Linked DNA regions of Homo sapiens. The protein of the gene in region 1 purifies or fractionates together with the protein of each later gene. This does not show direct contact. Each region holds a gene or a part of one and is shown in the gene's direction. Other genes may lie near its edges.

Evidence for each region.
Region 2: the proteins of NXPE2 (region 1) and PRXL2A purify together in Homo sapiens (affinity purification with mass spectrometry; one large-scale study listed by BioGRID and IntAct). This does not show direct contact.
Region 3: the proteins of NXPE2 (region 1) and HELLS purify together in Homo sapiens (affinity purification with mass spectrometry; one large-scale study listed by BioGRID and IntAct). This does not show direct contact.
Region 4: the proteins of NXPE2 (region 1) and LMF1 purify together in Homo sapiens (affinity purification with mass spectrometry; one large-scale study listed by BioGRID and IntAct). This does not show direct contact.
Region 5: the proteins of NXPE2 (region 1) and PGAP1 purify together in Homo sapiens (affinity purification with mass spectrometry; one large-scale study listed by BioGRID and IntAct). This does not show direct contact.

Annotation. Positions count from the first base shown.
Region 1 is NC_000011.10:114,680,511-114,685,412, forward strand, and holds part of NXPE2 (NXPE family member 2), read left to right. Parts: intron 1-4,902.
Region 2 is NC_000010.11:80,425,160-80,430,061, forward strand, and holds part of PRXL2A (peroxiredoxin-like 2A isoform 1 precursor), read left to right. Parts: intron 1-706; coding exon 707-847; intron 848-2,172; coding exon 2,173-2,337; intron 2,338-4,902. UniProt on the Homo sapiens protein: Involved in redox regulation of the cell. Acts as an antioxidant. Inhibits TNFSF11-induced NFKB1 and JUN activation and osteoclast differentiation. May affect bone resorption and help to maintain bone mass.
Region 3 is NC_000010.11:94,551,399-94,556,300, forward strand, and holds part of HELLS (lymphoid-specific helicase), read left to right. Parts: intron 1-2,727; coding exon 2,728-2,850; intron 2,851-4,902. UniProt on the Homo sapiens protein: Plays an essential role in normal development and survival. Involved in regulation of the expansion or survival of lymphoid cells. Required for de novo or maintenance DNA methylation. May control silencing of the imprinted CDKN1C gene through DNA methylation.
Region 4 is NC_000016.10:956,709-961,610, reverse strand, and holds part of LMF1 (lipase maturation factor 1), read left to right. Parts: intron 1-4,902. UniProt on the Homo sapiens protein: Involved in the maturation of specific proteins in the endoplasmic reticulum. Required for maturation and transport of active lipoprotein lipase (LPL) through the secretory pathway. Each LMF1 molecule chaperones 50 or more molecules of LPL.
Region 5 is NC_000002.12:196,915,921-196,920,822, reverse strand, and holds part of PGAP1 (GPI inositol-deacylase), read left to right. Parts: intron 1-672; coding exon 673-826; intron 827-4,229; coding exon 4,230-4,405; intron 4,406-4,902.

The DNA of each region.
Region 1 (4,902 bases):
CTCTATAAATATGTGTTCTCTAGATTTCTTCCTCTGATCCTCTTCTCTTCTATGCTTGTACCTTTTAATTCATTTGCCCAGGTCCTACCCACTACCAATATTAGTGTTTCACAAAGTGAAGTCTGGGAGCCTTCTGCCCAGAATACCTGTTCTTATACCTGTGTGTAAAATGCAGATTCCTGAGCCATACTCAGAACTACTGAAATCTCAGTTTGAGCCTAAGATTACAAAGTATTAACAAGCTCCTCAGTTTATTCTTAAGCATGCTAACATTTGAGAATCTCTGCTATGTCCTTCCAAAAGTGAAACCTCTTTCCAGCCCCACTCTTGAATATGTGCTATTCATTGGATATCTCCATCTAAGTCTTCCACTAGCACTACCAAAACAAAAAACACACACACCAAATTTATCATCTGTCTCACCATCATCCCCTAACAAAAACAAAACAAGCATACAAAATCAAATGGAAACAAATTCTCTACTTTTATCTCTCCAGTCTTAATAATTGTTGCCATAGCCTGTGTAGTCAATCAAGCTAAAACTCCCTCCACAAGCTGATCAGCCACTAAGTCTTATAAATCCTACCTCCAAAATGTCTCTCAAGTCTATCCTTTTTTTCTCCATCCACATTGTCTTTCTTTAGACCGATACTTTGTCATTGCTCATCTAAATTGTTGAAATAGTTTTCCAATTAATTTCCCTGCCTCCAGTCTCAGCCTGCTCTAAGCACTCATTCAAAAAACCTTTGTTAAATGTATATTGTGTGTCAGGCACTGGTCTAGGAATTAAAGATACAGAAATACAGGATATCATGTTTGTGTTCAAGAATCTGAAATTTTATTTCTAAAATGAAAATGTGAATATGGTACTCTACCTTCAGCAGCTCCTCATGTAGCATGTGTATGGCCCAAATGCCTTGGCACAGTGTTTTATTGGACTCATTTAAATAAAGGGCACAGAAACTCACTAGGCCTGGTCCAAGACATCCTTGCACTGGCTGTTTTCTTTTTCTTCCCTTTCTCCAGGTTTTCATGTAACTTCCACGTAGTTCTTACTTCCTTCAAGTCTTTTTCATCTTCTTGATTTAACACCAGACACATCCCCACTCCCACCTCTTAGCATTCCCCTTACTCTGTTTGATTTTTTTAACATAACGATTATAATTATTACTGATAACAGGCATTAAGTCATATCAGAATTATAGGAGTTTCCCGTAATTTTGGAATACATGCCAATAACATATTTATACAAATATAGCCCAAAGGAAACCAAACACCATTTTATATTTGACAATGCTTCCTGTATAATTTTTATACCAAATAAGCTACACACGTCATTTTTGGACTATAGGGAACCTATTAGTAATATCTTAAAGGATTAATAAGGTCAGAAAAAGACATAATTTATAATTTGATTTTGGAAAGTTTGTCAAATATCAAAGGTTTAAAACACTTGATATTACAAAATAGGATCACAGGTCATTGTAAAATAAATCATTCATTTAACCAAAGTGATAACTCAAGGATTTTCTTAAAAAGGCAAAACCTTCATTCTATGAGAGAGGAGACTTAATTTTCCAAACAATAAGCCCTAATAAAAACAACAAGAAGCCTATTAAATTTATTTTCCAAAATTGTATAAACAATCTATAACATTTTCATCCTGATCATAAGATATAACTTCTGTAAGTCTTTATAACCTTTATGAAGGAGTAGGTTAATGCTTCAAGAAAACCTTGTTAATCTGACATAGGGGCCCACATGCTGGTCTCGCATCAGTGTGCTTTTGACATTAATGATTAATTTATAAAGAAAGTGAACTTACTTTATCTTTTAAAGTTGGCCCTTACAATCTCATATGCCCACCTCTTCCAAGATAGTCCCTGGGCCTTGAGGAGTTGAATGGCTTTAATTTCTGGCCCTGTGTCTCAGGAATGCAGTTAATTTTGATTGGCATCTTCTACCAGGCCTGAAGATGAGGCTTTAATTGCTGTCAGAGCTTAAGTTTAGCAGGACTTGGTGTTCTTTTTAGACCCAGAAGTCAAAGCCCTGTAGCTCAATGTCACAAGGACTTTAAAAGCACATACAGGAAGATGCAAGGAAGTAATAACGTTAATTAAAATTTTTTTATTCTCAATTTTTCCTGAGCAAACCAAACTTAATAATAATGCATAGGAATTATTTTGATAAAACTTAAAATCTGTTAGTCCAGTTACCAAAAGGCAAAAGAGAAGACCTTTTGTAGTGCACAGAATATTATGTTGGAAGAAGACATTTCCTTTAGACCTTTAAGAAAACATTGCTAGCATAAGGCCACAAGAAACAGAACCTGAGGAGGAAAAAAAAAAACTTATAGGAACTGAAAATGAGTTGAAGGGTATTGTTACTATTTCATGTTTTTTAAAAGGGGAGAGAAAACCAAAACCCGTGAGATGCAATAAAAGTTGAACTTTGGGTTAAAATAAAAAAATTAAAATATCTTATAATTTATTAAAATTAAATAAACCCCTTAAGAAAATTTCATTGTTCTAACCAATTCTATTATTCAGCGTATAAGTGGTTTTTTAAATATAAAACCTGATCTATAGAAAGACCATTATAATTTCCCTTTAATCATAGAGAACTAGATCTTATAAAAGTTTTTGAGTTTTTTAAAATAAATCCTCTTATTGTCACTTACACAGGCTGTTCATGACTTGCTTGGACTTTCTGGTTTGTTCTGAACATCCCTTTTCCTTTAACAGCCAGTCATTTTACTCTAGGACTAAATTTACCATACAATTCTTTCTTGTTTGAATTATTTTTTGTAATAGTACTTTTCACTTTCTAAAATAATATATGATTTACTCATTTATTATGTTCATTGATTATTGTCTATCCTTACCTAGTATATAGTAACCTTTATAGAGTCAAAGTTTTTTTTTTTTTTGAGATGGAGTCTTGCTCTGTCACCAGGCTGAAGTGCAGTGGCACGACCTCGGCTCACTGCAACCTCCGCCTCCTGGGTTCAAGTGATTCTCCTGCCTCAGCCTCCCGAGTAGCTGGGATTACAGGCGCGTGCCACCAGGTCCAGCTAATTTTTGCATTTTTAGTAGACATGGGGTTTCACCATGTTGGCCAGGATGGTCTTGATCTCTTGAACTCATGATCTGCCCTCCTTGGCCTCCCAAGAGTCAAAGATTTTTATAAGTGTTTATTGGTATCACAAGTGCCTAGAACAGTCTCTGGTACATAGTAGATACTTAATAAATAACTGGTAAATAACAAAATAAAGAAAGACTGTTCAGTGATCTGGGTGAGAGGTAATGGTGGCCTGAAATAAGCTACTAACAATAAAGATGGAGAAAAGTCAATGAATTTGGCCTATAATTGACAGTAATAGTGATTGACTGTGGGAGGTAAAGAGGTAGGTTTAACCAGGAGTTACATGTTACATTCCAGGTTTGTACAACTGCATGGCTGTTGATCTCATTCACTGAAGTATTGACCAGAATAGGAGAAATAGTTAGAAGACAAAAGATGGGTTTAGGTATGAATAGTCTAGGTTTGAGGTCCTTTTAGGTCAACCAAGTGGAGATGTTGAATATATAGATCTGAAGCTGGGAAAGATCTGGCTTAGAAAAATAGATTTAGGAGGCCAGGCCCGGTGGCTTATGCCTATAATCCAAGCACTTTGGGAGGCCGAGGCGGGCAGATCACAAGGTCAGGAGATCGAGACCATCCTGGCTAACACGGTGAAACCCCATCACTACTAAAAATACAAAAAATTAGCTGGGCGTGGTGGTGGGCGCCTGTAGTCCCAGCTACTCGGGAGTCTGAGGCAGGAGAATGGCATGAACCTGGGAGGCAGAGCTTGCAGTGAGCCGAGATCACACCACTGCACTCCAGCATGGGCAACAGAGTGAGACTCCATCTCAAAAAAAAGAAAAGAAAAAAAAATAGATTTAGGAAACATCGGAATACAAATGGCAGCTGAAGTCATTGTAGTCTGTGACATTTCCTTGGATGAAGTATAAAGCAAGAAGAAAAAGTTGCTAGTGATATAATCCTGAGGAACAAAATAAGCACTTGGCTGAGGAGTTAGTGGTAGTGGAGAAAGTGCACATGGGAAGGAAGAGGACCCTTGAGAAACTTAATTGGTAGGGGTGGGGAATAGGTGAAGGTTAGAACAGCAATTAAAGGGGGAATCAGAGGCTCCAAAAATTTTCCTTTTTGTAATATGGGAGATACTTGAATGCATTTTAATTCATATGGAAAAAGGCTAATAGAAGAAAGGAGGAAATAGGAAAGAGAAGGTGTGGTTACACATGTTTGGCAGTGTGACAGGAAGTTGAATGGCTAAGTGATTACTCTTACAGTTCTCTAAAGCCAAGAAGCTTCAGGAACACAGAAATTTAGGTATTGGAGGAACTGCCTCCATGGATATTGAAGTCTACCTGGAGGATGTCAAGACTTTTAGTGATTAAGACTAGGAGCCAAGTTCTTCATGATCTTCTATAAATGAGTAAAAGAATCCAGTTGGTCAAAAAGTGACAGAGAAGAGGAGGATTATGTAGTAATTGGTGATAGTTGGTCAGATATATCATGGAGAACAAGATATCTTAGGGTCTTCTGAAAAAATATATATCCCTTAATATATATAAATCTTCAAAATATATATATTTGAAATGTGTGTGCATATGTGTATAAAACCCTGGTTTTAGTCCATTCAAGCTGTTCTAAAAGAATACCACTGACGGAATGGCTTACAAGCAATATAAATTTACTGCTGACAATTCTGGAAGCTGCAAAGTCCAAGATCAAGGCATCAACAGATTTGGTGTCTGATGAGGGACTGCTTCCTTGTTCATGGATGGGTATCTTTTCATGTGTACTTACATGGTGGAATGGGCAAAGGAGCTC
Region 2 (4,902 bases), on another chromosome or scaffold:
AGTTCTTAATGTTGAAGCTTTACCATGACTCATGCAGTTTCCCTCATTCATCTAGCACACAGTTCCTGAGAGTCAAGGGTATCTGCATCTCAGCTCAGCTGCATTCTCCCCATTGTCCCCCTTCAAATCTTTCCACCTGGTATTTAGCACCTGTTTTATACCCAGCCATGTTCTAGGCACTGAGGGTTCCAAGAAATGGAAGACATAGTTTCTAACTATTAGAAACATTTGGGAATGTAAGAGACAACACTCAACTTAGTGGTAACATGCAGACTCAGTACAGAAAATGTCACCAAACAGGGAAGATAGGATATGCACAGAGAAGCAGGGCTTTACTTCAGGGTGGACTAGCCAGGGAGATCTTTTTAGAACGGGGATACCTTTCCAGAGGGTAGGGTTGAGCTGAAGAGAGAAGGAAGGTTATGGCTAGAGGAGCGTGTGTCTGCTGGGCCCTTGTGTTAGTTTGGTCTAGTGCAGGGAAGGGGCTGGGAGATGATGTAGGAGAGAAGCATTGTGGGCAGGAGGAGAGGATGTGTTTGGGTATGGCTGCTCCCAAGCTGTGGTTAGGACAGCCATAACAGGAGCCTTGCCTCTGCTTTCCACTGGAGAAGACAAGGAGCCTGGGCTGCAGAGGGAACCTGACACCCTATGTGGAGGCCCACAGCCAGCTGGGACAGATGTCCCTGAACCCTTGTGTCTTCTACAGGAAGCTGCGGATCTGTCCTCCCTGAAAAGCATGTTGGACCAGCTGGGCGTCCCCCTCTATGCAGTGGTAAAGGAGCACATCAGGACTGAAGTGAAGGATTTCCAGCCTTATTTCAAAGGAGAAATCTTCCTGGATGAAAAGGTGTGTGTGATGGGAGGCTTTTAGACACAGACTGCTGGGGATTGTGCTCAGCTGTGTGATAGTCAGGTGGCCCAGGTATGTCTGGCCTGGAGCTGGAGGCTGGCCTTCCCTTCAGCTGTCCTGAACTTGCAAGGCCTTTTTCAGCCCCCTGAGCAGAGCATGATCAGACATTTTAAAGCTGTCCTCTCAGTTACAGACAGTCCCTGACCATCTGGTGGTTTGACTTAACGATCTTTCAGCTTTGTGATGGTGCAGAAGTGATAAGCATTTAGTTTCTACATTTCTTCAAGAACCCATACAGCCATTCTGTTTTTCACATTCAATATTCAATAGACTACATAAGTTATTCAACACTTTATTTTAAAATAGGATTGTGTTACATGATTTTATTCAACTGTAGGTTAATAAGAGTGTTCTGAGCATGTTTAAGGTAGTGTAGGCTAAGCTATGAGGTTAGGTGTATTAAATGCATTTCAATATAAGATATTTCAACTTATGATGGGTTTGTAGGGACATAATCCCATTGTAAGTTGAGGAGCATCTGTATTACTTAAGTCTTTCCTGCCATGTGAACTGGGAGAGTAGGAAATAGCTGAAACTCCAACAGGTTCCTCCACTGTTGGGGGCCTAGTACAAAGCCCCACACCCTGTCCCTTAATTCATTTATTTCTTTCTCTTCTGCTCCCACCTCTGCAGAAGGTAGCACTGTTACCATCCTGTCAGGTGGAAGACTAGTGAGAAGGTAGAGTCAGAATTGAAAGCTACGGATGTCACCCTAGGTCAGGCCTACCTTGAGGTCTGAAACTGGACCCAGCAGGGTTCTGTTTTCTTGGCAGTTGAGAGTGGACCTGGATTGGCTGGGCATGGTGGCTCATGCCTGTAATCTCAGCACTTTGGGAGGCCGAGGTGGGCAGATCATTTGTGGTCAGGAGTTCAAGACCAGCTTGGCCAACGTGGTGAAACCTGTCTCTACTAAAAATTCAAAAATTAGCCAGGCATGGTGGCAGGCACTTGTAATCCTAGCTACTTGGGAGGCTGAGGCCAGAGAATTGCTTGAACCTAGGAGGTGGAGATTGTAGTCAGCTGAGATCGCGCCGTTGTACTCTAGCCTGACTGACAGAGCAAGACTCCATCTCAAAAAAAAAAAAAAAAAAAGAGTGGACCTGAATGTGGGCAGTGTGTGTGTGTTGGGTGGGAGAGAAGACTGGAACCAGCAGCCTTTTGAGTCTTTGCCTGAGAACCAATGCCCCGTCAGGAGCGTTTCCTCCTTGAGGAAGGCAGGCATGTAGAGTACTCATATGGGATCTGTCTTTCTCACTCCATAGAAAAAGTTCTATGGTCCACAAAGGCGGAAGATGATGTTTATGGGATTTATCCGTCTGGGAGTGTGGTACAACTTCTTCCGAGCCTGGAACGGAGGCTTCTCTGGAAACCTGGAAGGAGAAGGCTTCATCCTTGGGGGAGTTTTCGTGGTGGGATCAGGAAAGCAGGTGAGTTCTTGGTGTTTACTTGTGGTCTGTAGGTGTCTGTGTCTGTGAGTGTGAGACTCCAACCAGAAGCTGGAGTGGGGGTTGACTTTCCCTGTTTTGGGTCTCCTAGCCTTCCTTCTAGCAAGCCAGGGAACATGAAGAAGGGAAGGGAAGGCAGTTGTTGTTTATCACACATCATTCTCTGCTAGTACCTCATACTTGAATCTACTCACTCATCACAGTGACATCATGAGACAGTTTGATCATTTTGCAGACAAGGAACTTAGAACTGAAAAGGGATGAGCAGCTGCACAAGGAGCACAGCTCATCGGTGGCTCTGCTAGGCCTGAACTCAGGTTTGCTGACTTTAAGTTCAAGGAGCACAGCTCATGGGTGGCACTGCTGGGGCCTGAACCCAGGTTTGCTGACTTTAAGTTTTGTTTTCTGTGCTTGAACAAAAGCGTAGTTTTATTCTGTTTTTGAATTTACTCTCTTGCAGTGTTCCAGGCCACCATGGATGGATGATAGAAAAAAAAATAAGAGGAGAAAATAAGGAATAGAACCAGGCGTAATTAGGGGAAGTGGCAAGGAGGTTGCGGGGAGACGATGCTTTTTTCTGTGGGGATCTTGGTGTCAGGGCTGGCCTAGGAAAGGTATCTGACTCCTCTGCAAACAGGCTATTATTATAGGTCCTGGCTGTGAGGCTCCACAAGCAGCATGGAGCCCTAGGGGAAGGTGTGGAAAGGAGGAATGGGGTCTCTATAGGCCCAAGAGCCAGGTAGGCAGTTGTTTGTGTCAGAGTCTAGGCAGCCTTGAGCCATGGTGGTTCCCCTGCCCTGGAGGGCAGTGTCAGCAGAGGCCAGGAGGATGTGTAGCAGGGATGGAGCAAAGTGGATGAGGGGGCTGGGCGCGGTGGCTCACACCTGTAACGCCAGCACTTTGGGAGGCCAAGGCGGGCGGATCACTTGAGGCCAGGAGTTCCAGACCAGACCAGACTGGCCAACATGGCAAAATCCCATCTCTACTAAAGAAAAGCTTAAAAAATTAGCCGGGTGTAGTGGTGCGCACCCATAGTCCCAGCTACTTGGGAGGCTGAGGCAGGAGATTTGCTTGAACCCAGGAGGCAGAGGCTGCAGTGAGCTGAGATTGTGCCACTGAACTCCAGCCTAGGGGACAGGGCAAGATTCCATCTCAAAAAAGCAAGTGGATGAGGGAAGGGTATGGGAGAAGGACCTGGAAACTGGTGGCCTGACTTCTAGGCCTGTCTCTGTCAATTTTGGACATGACATTAACGTGTAGAAAGTGTTTTCTTTCTGTAGAAAGATGGGGTTTATCTGCATTGTTGGATCTCACTATTAATGTTGATAATTACATACTCTTCCCAATTTGGGAGGAATAAAAGGGAATAGAAATCCTTCAAGTTTAAGCTTTATTTCTTTTTTTTCAGATGGAATCTCACTGTGTTGCCCAGGCTGGAGTGCAGTGGTGCGATCTCGGCTCACTGCAAGCTCCACCTCCTGGGTTCACGCCATTCTCCTGCCTCAGCCTCCTGAGTAGCTGAGACTACAGGCACCCACCACCACACCCAGCTAATTTTTTTGTATTTTCAGTAGAGACAGGGTTTCTACTCATGATCTGCCCGCCTCAGCCTCCCAAAGTGCTGGGATTACAAGCTCACGCCTGGCCTGAGCTTTATTTCTTATGTCTTCCTTTTACAGCTTGGTAACTGATTCGCTTGACTATATTAGAATTTAGCATAAAATGGTGTCTGATTTAACATAAACCTATTTGCTAATTTTCTGGTAAATCTGTCAAAGTGTCTTAGTAATAATGGTTTCCAATGAGTGCCTGTCTTGTTCTACGTGCTCAAGTACATGGTCTCATGTCTTCCTCACAACCAGTCTAGGATGTTAGGCATTTTTATTCCCATCCACATATACAGCAGTTGGCCTAGAGATTTAAAATAACTCAGCCAAAGACACAGCTAAGTGGTACAATGGAAATGAAACTTAGGAACTCAAATCTGTCAAACTCCAGAGACCCTTCCCGGCCCGGCCCTGCCCTGCCCCGCCCCGCCCCTAGCCTCTCCTGCCCTGCCCTGCCCCTAGCCTCTCCTGCCCTGCCCTGCCCTGCCCTGCCCCTAGCCTCTCCTGCCCTGCCCTGCCCCTAGCCTCTCCTGCCCTTCCCTGCCCCTAGCCTCTCCTGCCCTGCCCTGCCCCTAGCCTCTCCTTGGAGGTGTTTCCCAGCGACCACTTCCTGATGTCCTTATGCTTGGGCAGGCCACTTCCCCAGTGGATTGCCCATCCTCTTCCCACTCTGACAACGTGGGGTTCCTTCCCCTACCCGCCTCTGCCTTCTCATGGCCTCTAGGGCAGGGCTTGGCATGCCTGCCAGCCTTTTCTTGCCTGGCGATGACTCATCTGGTGCTCATGGGCCCTACTGGCATGTTTCTGATGTTGCTAGGTGTGTTTGACTTTTGTTCGTATTCCCTGGAGCCCCTGGCCTTCATTCTCCTAGGCGGAAGGTTAACTGGCTAGCTGAACTTCAGGACTTACTTCAGTTCTTGTTGGGTGTAGAGTTTTTGTA
Region 3 (4,902 bases), on another chromosome or scaffold:
CTACTAAAAATACAAAAATTAGCGGGGTGTGGTGGCAGGTGCCTCTAGTCCCAGCTATACTGGGGAGGCTGAGGCAGGTAATTGCTTGAACCCGGGAGGCGGAGGCAGAGGTGAGCCAGGATTGTGCCACTGCACTCCAGCCTGGGCAACAGAGTGAGACTCCATCTCAAAAAAGAAAAAGAAATATATTTTGAAAGAAAGCTATAGTGATGATGTAATAGCTAGGAAAATGTAAGGCAATATAAAATGATATCTTAGAGATATTGATAAGCTGGAGCAGCAAAACTACCCAAGTGCTAGGGCATTATTTAGAGTATAAAAATGAATTCATACCCCCATTTCTTTTCTTTTTTTTTTTTGAGATGGAGTCTCGCTCTGTTGCCCAGGCTGAAGTGCAGTGGCGCGATCTCGGCTCACTGCAAGCTCTGCCTTCCGGGTTCACGCCATTCTCCTGCCTCAGCCTCCCAAGTAGCTGGGACTACAGGCGCCTGCAACCACACGCGGCTAATTTTTTGTATTTTTAGTAGAGACAGGGTTTCACCGTGTTAGCCAGGACAGTCTCAATCTCCTGACCTCGGGATCCGCCCGCCTCAGCCTCCCAAAGTGCTGGGATTACAGGCGTGAGCCACCGCGCCCAGCCTCATATCCCCCATTTCAAACACGCTGTAAACAATGCTCAATTACTTTCCTCTTAAGTTGAAACCACCAATTACTGGGGAAAGGGGCAGTTAGATTTTATTGGTTGACTTTGTGTTTTTACTAATCCTTGTTGAAAAGTAGAGGAATTGGTTTAGTTGAGAAAACAAAATACTAAAAAATCTGCCACTAGACTTTTTAAGTCAAGAGTTTGTATAAAATGAAACATATCTACTATCTAATCTATAAAATTTAGAATCTTTTTAATTCTAAAGTTAACTTAAGTGTGATTTTTAGTGCTGTTGCTGAGGCCAGTGTTGCTTAAAGCAGGAACTTCTACAGTAATTGACAAAACTTGAGTTTTTCTGCTCTCATTTATCCATCCTTCAGACCCCTCAGATGTCATCTATTTCCTGAAATCTGACTTCTCCAGTTTTAGTAATTCTTACAATTTTTCAGGATTTAGATAGTACTGTACAGTTTACTGCTATGTATATGTCTTTAATACTTGTTGTTTTCAGATATTACACTAATGTCTCATCTGTAGTATAAATCAGACTTTCTGTCTTCTACCAGTTACATAATTTATATAATTGTTGCAGTACATGTTTGTTGATTTACTAGGCTGGATTCATGTTACAGAATTGGTAATCTTGGTTGGGCATGGTGGCACATGCCTGTAATCCCAGTACTTTGGGAGGACAAGGCAGACGAATCTCTTGAGTTTAGGAGTTGGAGACCTGCCTTAGCAATATGGTGAAACCCTGTCTTTACAAAAAAAAAAAATACAAAAAATTAACAGGGCATGGTGGCATCTGCCTAGAGTCCCAGCTACTTGGGAGGCTGAGGTGGGAGGGTGGTTTGAGCCCGGGATTTGGAGGCTGCAGTAAGCCACAATTGCACCAATTACAGCATGAGACCATGCCTTAAAAAACGGGGTGGGGGTGTTAATCTTGGCTAGATGTCTGTTTTGATTGTTAGGATGAATTGTGTTGGTAGTATTTTTCTAAAATGTTCTATCCAAATCAACTTGTTTATTAATCTCAAATAGGGAGAGACTCTGAAAACTTGTCTTAGAATTCTCTAGTGTCACCTAGGCAATCACTTTTTATGAGGGTCAAGTGCAAAATTAATCAAAAATTTTCCTTATCTGTACATAACAAGGTAATATAATAACACGGAACCACAACATCAATGTTTTAGCAAATTACACATACCTTTTTTTTTTTTTCCGGACGGAGTCTCACTCTGTCACCCAGGCTGGAGTGCAGTGGTGCCATCTCAGCTCACTGCAACCTCCGCTTCCCGGGTTTAAGCAATTCTCCTGCCTCAGCCTCCTGAGTAGCTGGGACTACAGGCATGCGCCACCACGTCCTGCTAATTTTTATAGTTTTAGTAGAGATGGGGTTTCACCATTTTGGCCAGGATGGTCTCAAACTCCTGACCTCAGGTGATCCACCCTCCTCGGCCTCCCAAAGTGCTGGGATTACAGGCGTGAGCCACCGTGCCTGGCCCCAATTTTTTTTTTTTTTTTTTTGGTACGGAGTTTTGCTCTTGTTTGGAGTGCAGTGGCATGATCTCGGCTCACTGCAGCCTCTGCCTCCCCCGGGTTCAAGCGATTCTCCTGCCTCAGCCTCCCAAGTAGCTGGGATTACAGGCATGCACCACCACGCCTGGCTAATTTTGTATTTTTAGTAGAGATGGGGTTTCTCCATGTTGGTCCGGCTGGTCTCGAACCCCCGACCTCAGGTGATCCGCCTGCTTTGGCCTCCCAAAGTGCTGGGATTACAGGTGTGAGTCACCGCACCCGGCCTTCAATTGTTTTTTAAATGGACCTTCCAACTCAGTAGTGCCAGAAACCATGTGTTCAATATTTGAAATTATAATATTTTGATATACGAATTGCATCTATCAGATTGCCTGTTAAACCCAAAAACTATTTTTTTTTTAACAGTTATTTGTTCCAGTTTTTGGTTTGAAAGTGTTTGGTTTAAAAAATGTTATTTTAGCCATTTTTATTAAACTTTATGCCAAAAAAATTAAGGTATGTCAGAAAGTGTTCATAATTATGGAAATTTTCTCTTTGGATAGGCTCGCATGTCTTGGGATAGAGAGTCGACAGAAATTCGGTACCGTAGACTTCAACATTTGCTTGAAAAAAGCAATATATACTCCAAATTTTTATTGACGAAAATGGAACAGCAACAATTAGAGGTATGTATATGTAACTGACTACAAGTGAAAGCTTAAAAAAATTTAAAAATAGCTTTATTGAAGTGTATATTATATACAGTAAAATGGACAGATTTTAAGTGTACGGTTTGCTGAGTTTTGACTAGTAAATATATAGATCTGTGTAACCACCAGCACAATCAAGATACAGTGCACTTCCATGAACTCCAAAAAATTGTCTTGTGCTGACAGTAATCCCCATGGCTGGTGTCCAGCAACTACTGATTTGCTTTCTGTCACTATAGACCAGTATTGTTTTTTCCTAGAAAATTGTATAAATGAAATCATGGTATTGTGCTAGTGAGTAAATAGTTGGTCTTCATCACCATTTCCTGGTATACAACTCTTGAAATCCTTGGAATCTTCAAAGTAATAGTGTTTTTTTTTTTGTTTTTTTTTTTTTAATGCTAATGATCAATGGCTAGCTGCCCTTAGGTAGCTTCAGGATGGGAGCCTAAGAAAGACAAAACCTGGATTAGAGGGTTGGGATTTAGCCTCACCCTCAACTTTGAGGAAAAGAGACTGAAAGTTAACTTGTTCACCAGTGGTCACGATTGAATCAATCACGTCTATGTTATGAGGTCTTCATTAAAAACCCAAAAGGGCTGGGTGTGGCTCACATCTGTAATCCCAGCACTTTGGGGAGCCTAGGTGGGTGGATTGCTTGAGCCCAGAAGTTTGAGACCAGGCTGGGTAATATGGCAAAACCCTATCTCTAATAGAAAAATTAGCTAGGTAAGGTGGCATGTGCCTCTAGTCCCAGCTACTTGGGAGGCTGAGGCAGGAGGTTGGCTTGAGCCAAGGAGATTGAGGCTGCAGTGAACTGTGATGGCACCACTGCATTCTAGCCTGGGTGACAGAGCAAGACCCTGTCTCAAAAATAAAACAGGCTGGGCGCAGTGGCTCACGCCTGTAATCCCAGCACTTTGGGAGGCCAAGGCAGACAGATCACTTGAGCCCAGGAGTTCGACACCAGCCTGAGTAACATAGTGAAAACCCGTCTCTACCAAAAATATAAAAATTAGCCGGTCATGGTGGTGTGTGCCTGTAAGCCCAGCTACTCAGAAGGCTGAGGCAGGAGGATCGCTTGAACCCAGGAGGCGGAGGTTGCAGTGAGCCGAGATTGCACCCCTGGACTCCAGCCTGGATGACAGAGTGAGACCCTGCCTCAAAAATAAATAAATAAAAAAAACCCCAAAAGGGGACAGGGTTTGGAGAACTTCTGGATAGCTGAACACATGGAGGTTCCTGGAGAGGATGGCGCATCCAGAAAAGGCATGGAAGCTCTGCGCTTCTTTCTCCATACCTTGTTCTATACATCTCTTTCTCTGGTGTTCCTCTGAATATGTTGTAATCTTTCTTTCTTTCTTTCTTTTTTTTGGAGACAGAGTCTTACTCTGTTGCCCAGGCTGGTGTGCAGTGCACCATCTCAGCTCACTGCAACCTCTGACTCCTGGGTTCAAGCAGCCCTCCCACCTCGGCCTCCCGAGTAGCTGGGACTACAGGAGCACACCATTATGTCTGTCTTATTTTTGTATTTTTTGTAGAGACAGTTTTGCCATGTTGCCGAGGCTTGTCTGGAACTCCTGGGCTCAAGTGATCTGCTTACCCTGGCCTCCCAAAGTGCTGGGATTACAGGGGTGAGCCACTGCGCCTGGACTGTCATATTCTTTATAATAAACCAATAAACTTTAATGTTTCTTTGAGTTCTGTAAGCTCCTCTAGCAAATTAGTCAAACCCAAAGAGGGGCTTGTGGGAACCCTGATTTATAGCTATTCAGTAAGAAGCACAGGTAAGGCGACTTGGGCCTTGCGATTGGCATCTGGAACTGGTAGTTAAAAGTCTTGGGGACTGAACCCTCAACCTATGGGGTATGGTGCTTTCACCCCGTAGATAGTGTCAGAATTGAATTACAATAGAGGACACCCAGCTGGTGTCACTGCAGAAATGCTTGTTTGGTGTATAGGGAAAACCCCCACACATTGGGTCACAGAAGTCTTTTGTGTTGATTGTTGAGTGTGTAGGGAGAAACT
Region 4 (4,902 bases), on another chromosome or scaffold:
GAGTCTGTGTCTGGGTCGTGATCCCGTGCTGTCACCGTGAGTCTGTCTGGGTCGTGATCCCGTGCTGTCACCGTGAGTCTGTGTCTGGGTCGTGATCCCGTGCTGTCACCGTGAGTCTGTGTCTGGGTCGTGATCCCGTGCTGTCACCGTGAGTCTGTGTCTGGGTCGTGATCCCGTGCTGTCACCGTGAGTCTGTGTCTGGGTCGTGATCCCGTGCTGTCACCGTGAGTCTGTGTCTGGGTCGTGATCCCGTGCTGTCACCGTGAGTCTGTGTCTGGGTCGTGATCCCGTGCTGTCACCGTGAGTCTGTCTGGGTCGTGATCCCGTGCTGTCACCGTGAGTCTGTGTCTGGGTCGTGATCCCGTGCTGTCACCGTGAGTCTGTGTCTGGGTCGTGATCCCGTGCTGTCACCGTGAGTCTGTGTCTGGGTCGTGATCCCGTGCTGTCACCGTGAGTCTGTCTGGGTCGTGATCCCGTGCTGTCACCGTGAGTCTGTCTGGGTCGTGATCCCGTGCTGTCACCGTGAGTCTGTGTCTGGGTCGTGATCCCGTGCTGTCACCGTGAGTCTGTGTCTGGGTCGTGATCCCGTGCTGTCACCGTGAGTCTGTCTGGGTCGTGATCCCGTGCTGTCACCGTGAGTCTGTGTCTGGGTCGTGATCCCGTGCTGTCACCGTGAGTCTGTGTCTGGGTCGTGATCCCGTGCTGTCACCGTGAGTCTGTCTGGGTCGTGATCCCGTGTTGTCACCGTGAGTCTGTGTCTGGGTCGTGATCCCGTGCTGTCACCGTGAGTCTGTGTCTGGGTCGTGATCCCGTGCTGTCACCGTGAGTCTGTGTCTGGGTCGTGATCCCGTGCTGTCACCGTGAGTCTGTCTGGGTCGTGATCCCGTGCTGTCACCGTGAGTCTGTGTCTGGGTCGTGATCCCGTGCTGTCACCGTGAGTCTGTGTCTGGGTCGTGATCCCGTGCTGTCACCGTGAGTCTGTCTGGGTCGTGATCCCGTGTTGTCACCGTGAGTCTGTGTCTGGGTCGTGATCCCGTGCTGTCACCGTGAGTCTGTGTCTGGGTCGTGATCCCGTGTTGTCACCATGAGATGGTGTCTGGGTTGTGATCCAGTGTTGTCACCGTGAGTCTGTGTCTGGGTCGTGATCCCGTGCTGTCACCGTGAGTCTGTGTCTGGGTCGTGATCCCGTGCTGTCACCGTGAGTCTGTGTCTGGGTCGTGATCCCGTGCTGTCACCGTGAGTCTGTGTCTGGGTCGTGATCCCGTGCTGTCACCGTGAGTCTGTGTCTGGGTTGTGATCCAGTGTTGTCACTGTGAGTCTTTGTCTGGGTTATGATCCAGTGCTGTCACTGTGAGTTTGCTGCTCAGCTCCTCCAGCTTTGACCACTGGTGGGTTTCCCCTCCTTCCCCGCAGGGATGCTTCCGGCCCAGCTTCTGTTTCTCTGCCCCAGCCCTAGAATGAGTTGTTTCCAAGGAGCCCTGGTTCTTTTTAGGGGAGCATAGAAACTTCAGTCTGGGCACTGGGAGGGCCGTTGCTCCCGGGGTGTCACAGCTGCTGGCCCTCTTCCTGGGTAGAGCTAGGCTCTGTGTGTCACTATCTCATTTCACACATTTGATTGCTTCTCTGTCGTATCCACCTATCCATCTGTAAGTATACGAAGGTCAACCTGGTCCATGCCGATGACTCTGACTCTCACCTGGCACACGGTGTATTCCAGCCTTCCGTCCTGGAACATGGTGTATTCCATCCTCCCGTCCTGGCACACGGTGTATTCCAGTCTTCCCTGCTGGCCCATCTGAATCCTCCCTCTCTGCTAGTGGGAACCTGGCTCCCCTGACTCCTCTAGCATCTGCTCAGCCCTGGTGCACGTGCGAGAATTGTCCACCCAGGCCCGGGGGGGAAAGCCCTGGAGTGCAGCGTTTGTGTACAGCTCCTTCTGGCCTTGCGGTCTCCACTCAGAACATTTTCCGGAGTTGCTTAGGCGGCTCCTGCCCTCTGGCCAGTGTGTTTCTGTTTCACATCCGTGCGTGTGGAGCCTGTATTCTATCTGCATCCCCCAACCTCCTGGTCGGGTCTTCCCCCAATAGTTTGTGCACATTGAAGTTCATCTCGTGTAATGCTCAGTGCTGTGGGCTTTGCCTCCATCACCCCAGCTCCAGCCCCAAGTCCCCCGTGCATGGGAGTGACCACTTCCCCTGCACCAGCCCCTGGCACGCCCGGGTCTGTCTCCCGTCCCTCTGGTTTTGCCTTTTCCAGTGTGACATACGAATGAAATCACGCAGTATATAGCCTGTTGGGTCTAGATTCTTTTGCTTAGCAAAATGCACTTAAGATTCATCCATGTTATTGCCTGAACCAACAGCTGCATTCTTATCTCTGATTATTTTTCTGTTGCACAAATGCACCTCCGGTTATTTATCCACTTCCACCGTGAAGGATGTCTTCCTTGTTTCTAGTTTTTAGTGGCTATGAACAGAGCTGCTATGAGCATCTGCATGAGGCTTCTGTGCGAGCACACTTTCAGGTTGAAGGCCTGAGAGGTGCAGTAGCTGATTTGTAAGGTAACCCTTCATTATCTGGGTCAGATGCCACCGTCTGCCATCCACAGTGGTAGGCCACAGCATCCCCGGCACAGCGAGGGCACTCCTGCTGTCCCGAACCTTCTGCAGCATTGGGCACTGTCCATGTTCGTGTTTTTTTTGTTTTGTTTTTTTGGTTTTTTTTTTGAGACAGTCTTACTCTGTCGCCGAGGCTGGAGTGCAGTGGCGCTGTGTCGGCTCACTCCAACCTCCGCCTCCTGGGTTCAAGCAATTCTCCTGCCTCAGCCTTGCGAGTAGCTGGGATTCCAGGTGTGCACCACTATGCCCAGCTAATTTTTGTATTTTTAGTAGAGACGGGGTTTCACCACATTGGCCAGGCTGGTCTTGAACTCCTGACCTCAGGTGATCTGCCCACCTCGGCCTCCCAAAGCGCTGGGATTACAGGCATGAGCCACCGCGCCCGGCCTGGGCACTGTCCGTTTTCAAGCACTTCGGCCATGTGACGTGTGTGTGGTGACAGCACGCTGTGGTTTTCATGGGCATTTCCGCAGTGATGAAGGATGTTGAGCATCTTTTCACGTGTTATTTGCCATCCGTACACCTTCCTATGTCTGTTCAGACCTTGTGGCCTGGTTTTTTCTTCCCACCTTTAACATTGGGTTGTTTGTTTTCTAATTATTGAATTTTAAAAGTTCTTTAAATATTCTAGATACAAATCCTTTATCAGATGTGTGATTTGCCAGTATTTTCTTCCAATCTGCGGCTTGTGTTTTCATTCTGTTAAAAGTAGCTTTTGCAGATCAAAAGTTTTTCAGTTTGATAAAGTTCAATTTACAGTTTCTAATTTCATAGATTATGCTTTTGGTGTTGTATCTAAAAACTTGTTGCCAAACCCAAGTCACATAGATTTTCTTCTATATTTCCATCTGGAAGTCTTATGCTTTTATGTTTTACATTTAGGTCTATGATCCTTTTTGGTTAATTTTTGTGTAAGGTGTGAAGTGTGTTCAGGTCCATCTTTTTGCATGTGGACATCCATCTGTTCCAACATGATTGTTACAGAGACTCTTCTTTGTTTTTTTATTTATTTTGTAGAGACTGAGTCTCACTATGTTGCCCAGGCTGCTCTGGAATTCCTGGGCTCAAGCGATCCTCCTGCCTCAGCCTCCCAAAGTGCTGGGATGACAGGTGTGAGCCACCACGCCCGGCCCAAGGCTGCTCTTTGTCTGTGTAGTTGCCTTTGAACCTTTGTCAGAATTTGTTCACTCTGTGTGTCGGGTCGGGGGCAGGGGGGCTGTGTCTGGGCCGTCTCTTCCATTCCATTGAGTTCTGCGGCTCTTCCTTAATCAATACTGCGCTGTCTTGATGTGGTCTTGATTAGCTTTTTAGTAAGTCTTGAAATTGGGTAACATGAGTCCTCCACCTCTGTTCTTTTCCAGATGATTTTGGCTTTTTAATCCCTTTGCTCTCCCATGTATATTCTAGAATCAGCTTGTCAGCCTCGGCGGAAGCACTGACTGGGTGTTTGGTTCAGATTGTGCCGAATTTATGGATCAAATTGACACCTTAATGATTTTGATTTTTCCAATCCATGAACATGGTCTATCTCTTCATATAGTTAGATCTTGTTTCATTTTTTTAATCAGTGTTTTGTAGTTTTCCATGTGCAGATTCCGTTTATATGTTTTTAGATTTATAAATGCATGGGGAAAAGTACATGTACTAGCTTCCTACATGTCTACACAGACACTCACTCCAAACCAGCATGCACAGTTACACAGACATGGACCCCAAGCCAGATTCCTACACGCAGTAGGAAGCCGCATGTACTTGTGGGGTTGCTCTTGTGATATTGTTATCATTATGCAATATCTTCTTTCATCCCTGTGTCATTCCTTGTTTGTAAATTGATTTTTTTCCTTTTGAGATGGAGTCTCTGTTGCCCAGGCTGGAGTGCAATGGTGCCATCTCGGCTCACTGCAGCCTCCCGGGTTCAAGTGATTCTCCTGCCTCAGCCTCCCAAGTAGGTGGGACTACCGGGGTGCACCACCACATCCGACTAATTTTTGTATTTTTTAAGTAGAGACAGGGTTTTGCCATATTGGCCAGGCTGGTCCCAAACTCCTGACCTCAGGTGATCCACCCGCCTCAGCCTCCCAAAGTGCTGGAATTACAGGCGTGAGCCACCGTGCCCGACCCTTAAATCTACTTTTTTTTTTTTTTTTTGAGATGGAGTTTTGCTCTTGTCGTCCAGGCTGGAGTGCAGTGGCGCAATCTTGGCTCACTGCACCCTCCACCTCCCAGGTTCAAGCCATTCTCCTGCCTCAGCCTCCTGAGTAGCTTGGATTACAGGTGCCTGCCA
Region 5 (4,902 bases), on another chromosome or scaffold:
AGTTTGCCAGCAAATCATGCACCTGGCCCATGAAAACTGAAATAGATACTAATTCACTGGAATGTTTATGGTAAGAAGAGTGTACATGTCTTGACCAAGACATGGCTATAAGGTTAAGATTAATTTGTTACACATATTGTAGGCCAAAGCATATTAAGTTGAGAAGTCAGAAAGCTGCATTATAAAACAACTTACTTTCTTTTGAAGATATAACAACTGAAATAGATAGTTGGGTCTGAGTAAAAGGAGAGACATTACAAAATAGTTAAAAATGGAAAAAAAGAATTGATTTGATGATGGAAAGCCTTTATCATTTCTAAGTATAATTGATACTTATCCAATTATGTTAACATGTAACTTGTCGACATATACCAGTGCTTTCTGCCATTGTCAGTGGCTATTTTGAGTAATTTGTATTGGTTAGAAGTTCACGTAGTCCTCTTTTATGTTTTCCTAAAGACTACATGGTTCAAAATATACACAATTCAAGACTGATTCTCTATATGAATAAACTACAAGTAGAACTTGTTTTGTGTATGAAGTGTGGTTTTAATATCAGTAATATTTTTATATTGCACTATTTCAAATTTGCGTAATTCAGAATTGCATATGGTGAGGCTGAATTGTATTAATAAAACTGATTAAAGTGAAACTACTTTTTTTTAAATGTAGAAAATAGAACTTCCAAAGAAACTGGCAAAACGCTATCCCGCATATGAGTTGTATCTTTATGGAGAGGGATCCTATGCTGAAGAACACAAAATTCTCCCTTTGACGGGTATTCCAGTTCTCTTTCTTCCTGGTAATGCTGGAAGTTATAAGCAAGGTAAGTCTTACTGGAAGTAAATTTTGAAAGCTATAAAATTCAACTCAAGAATTTGAATCATATCCATACTCGGTGAATCAAATAAAGTAAATGAAATGCATGCTGTGTGTGAAGTGCTGTGCTGGGCTTACAGAGAGACCAAAATATAATATTTTCTCTGAGAGAGAATAATGTGAGAAATACTTAGAAAAGTTGAAGACCACTTTGCAAAGAGAGGGGTACAAAGAATAAGATAGAGTAGGATGGGATAAGTAGATGATAAAGGGGAACCCCTTGGGGAATCAGCAGAGGAAACACATTTATGTTGGAAATGGAGGGTAAAGAGAACAGAACCTTAAGCATTGATTAGGGAAGTAAATCAGTGACTAATGTTATGCAGAACAAGAGAGATTCGTTTTCTTCTTTTGGAGTTATTTAAGTTAGAGAGATTTGGAAGTACTGGGGGGAACATAGAAAGGTGAGATAGGGAAGTTACGTGTACAGATTCCAAATTGATGCTGGCTTGGAGATACAGCAGTTATTTCTGGCGTAACAGCCAAATAACCTGGAATTAATTTCGTTTTAAACTAAAACCTGCTTTCTTGTTATTTGATGGACTAGAATTGTTATGTAATGAGACTAGAATTGTTTCAACATGTGCAATTATTTACGTGTTTATTCATCTAGCACGTGTCTACAGGTATCTACCATGAGCCAGGCTGTATTCCAGGTATTAGGGATCCAGAGCATATCAAGACAAAGTCCCTCTCTCATCAAATTTATATGCTTATCAGGAAGACAGCAATCAAACAAATATGTCAGTAATGTTAAAAGCTAGAAACAAAAACAGACTCAGGAGGTAGAAGATAAAAGGGTCAGGAAGTGGCTAGTTTAGATGAGGTGGTCAGGAAAGGCCATTGTGAGGAGATGACATTTGAGGAGATGCTTGACTGAGGGAAGGTCCTGAGGCAGGAACGTGTTTTGTGCATTGGAGGCTATCGTGACTAGAGAAAGTAAAAAGAGATAAGAATGGAAAAGTAACCACGGGCCATATCATATAAGCTGTGGAAAAGACTTTGAATGAGAAACTGTTGGAGAGCTTTGGGTAAGAAAAATATAACCTGATTTTTAAAAGTAATCTTTGTATTTGAAATATTACATACAGAGAAACACATAGAACATAGATATTTGGTTACAAATTATTATAAAGTGAACACCCGTGAAACCAAAACCCTAGTCAAGAAGTAGATTACCAGTAACCTGGAAACCCCTTCTGTGCCCCTTCATGATTAAAACTTTGTTCCCTTCTTTCTTGACAGAATCACAGTCCTAATGTTAAGAGAGTAATTTCCTTAACTTTCTTTGTAGTTTTAATGCAATCTATGTATATGAGGCTGTTTTTAAATTTTGTAATATGAATATAGTCATTCAGTATGTATTATTTTGTGTCTGGCTTCTTTCACTCAGCATTATCTTTAACATTCATCCAAGTTGTTGTGTGAGCTGTGATTCATTCATTTTCCTTACTCTGTATTATTCTGTAGTATGACTATACCATGGTTTGTCCATTCTGTCTTTGGACAGAATAAATGTTTACATTTATTGGCAATTACAAATAATGAATATTATTCCATATGTTTCCTGGAGCACATAAACCTGTGCTTCTGTAAGCTAGATACCCAAGAGTGTAATTCCATGTTACAGGTTATGTGTATCTTTTTAATCTTTACTGATTGTGCTAATTTATATTCCTAAAAGCAGTATATTTTACCTTCCTTTGCTCCACATCCTTTTACAACACCAGAATTGTCAGACATTAAATTTTTAAGCAACCTGGTAGGTGTGATTTACTTTTAAAAAAAGTTGCTCTGGCTTCACTATGAAGAGAATTTCCTTTGAAGGGCAAGAATGGAAGCAGGAAAGATGCTAAAACATCATAAGTCATCAGAGAACTATAAATAAAAAATGAGATAGCACTTCATACCTCCTAGGATAGTTATAATAAGAAAGATGGATAACAACAAGTGTTGGTGAAGATGTGGAGAAATTGGAACCCTCATACATTGTTGGTGGAAATGTAAAATGTGCAGCCACTTTGGAAAACTGTTTGGGAGTTCCTCAGAATATTGAACATAGAGCTCTCATGTGGCCCAAAAATTCCACTCCTAGGTATCTACCCAAGAAAAATAAACATATACCCACACAAAAACTTGTATATAAATGTTCATAGCAGCATATAATAACCAAAAGGTGGAAATAATTTAAATGACCATCAGCTGATAAATAGATGAATCAAATATGACATATTCATATAATGGAATATTATTCAATAAAAAAGAGGAATGAAGTACTGATACATGTCACAACATGGGTGAACCTTGAAAACATGCTATGTGAAAGAAGCCAGTTCCAAAAGGCCACGTATTATATGAGATATCCAAAATAGGCAAACCCGTAGAGACAGAAAGTAGATCAGTGGTTGCTAGGCCTAGGATTTGGGAGGAGTGAAGAAATGGGGAGTGACTGCCAGTAGGCACAGAGTTTTGTTTTTGAAACGATTAAAAAATATCTTATGTTAGATTTCAGAGATGGTTGTAAAATATATACCAGAGATGGTGAATATACTAAAAACCATCGAATTTTACAGTTTTATATAGTGAGTTGTATAATATGTGGATTATAATGTATCTATAGTATATGTTTTTACAAAATGAAATGGCAAACAGGTATTTTGTTTGCTAAACCATATGCTACAATTTTTGTGCCACCTAATATAAGCAATTTATAATATATTTTTTAAAAAGATTTGCAAAACAACAACAAGAACAAAAAGAGTGGAAGCAGAGAGACCAGTAAAGAACCTGTTAGAGTAGTTCAGATAAGAGATAATAGTGTTTGGATTAGGACAATAGTGGTGGGAATGGTGAGAAATTTCAACTGGGGATAGATTTGGAAGGTACATTATGAAAGCGCTTACTGATGGATTGGATGTCCTGTGTAGGAGAAAAAGACAAATCAAGCGTGAGTATCTAAACCAAGTGATGAATGGATATTTCTTGTAGGAACCTTGTCATTCTTAAAAACCTCAATAAGTGTGGCAAAATTTATATGTCTTATTCTTCAAAGAATCCTGCCCTTTTAGCTATTGTTGCTCCTACCAAAGGAAAAGAAGGTAGAGAGTGAGTGATCTGTTTGCTTTTTGTTTATTTAATTTTAAAAATATTTATGACACACTTACTGCATTCAAGGCATACAGTTGCTAGATTAGTTTGTTCTAAATTGGTGCTATTAATGAATTTCATCCTGAAATAGGTGGTTTATATTCGTGATGCAGGATAAGGTTATTTACTAAGAAATTCTGAAGAAAGAATGGATGAAACCTGTAAATATTGTTTAATGTGCACTTCACTCTTTTCCTCTGCAGTTCGTTCTATTGGCTCCATTGCACTTAGAAAAGCAGAGGACATTGACTTCAAGTACCACTTTGACTTCTTTAGTGTGAACTTCAATGAAGAACTGGTGGCTTTGTATGGTGGAAGTCTTCAGAAGCAGACCAAGTTTGTACATGAATGTATTAAAACAATTCTCAAACTCTATAAGGTGAGAGATAAGTATGCAAATCAATAGTGGTGCAACCTATCGGCACCTTTTTAAAAAAGGGATTCAGTATACTTTAAATCATGTATTTGTTTATATGGAAGTTGAAGCAGAGAAGGCACAAATTTTTTTTGTGAGAGTCTGTTGTCTTGGCCTCCGTAATGGTTTTGAAGTTTAAATTTATAAGAAACATTTCTTATGGTGAATTCAGGAAGAAAAACTTTTTAAAACTTTATATATAAATTAGGAGTAAAATGCATTACCTAAAAACCATTGGTATAGATTTCTACCTCTAGCTATGACTAAGTAACTGGTACTAGGATAGAACACCTGCATATGTAAACAACTGTAAAACTGGTCAAGATATGTGAAGCACCTGTTTTGAGATGTTGGACAACAGAGCAGCAAAGGACTATGATCCCTGGAAGAAGTAAGCTCCATGATTGCTCTGGATTTCTGCCCGGAAGCGTTTTCCAGACTATGGGGCAAGTAAGGGAGGT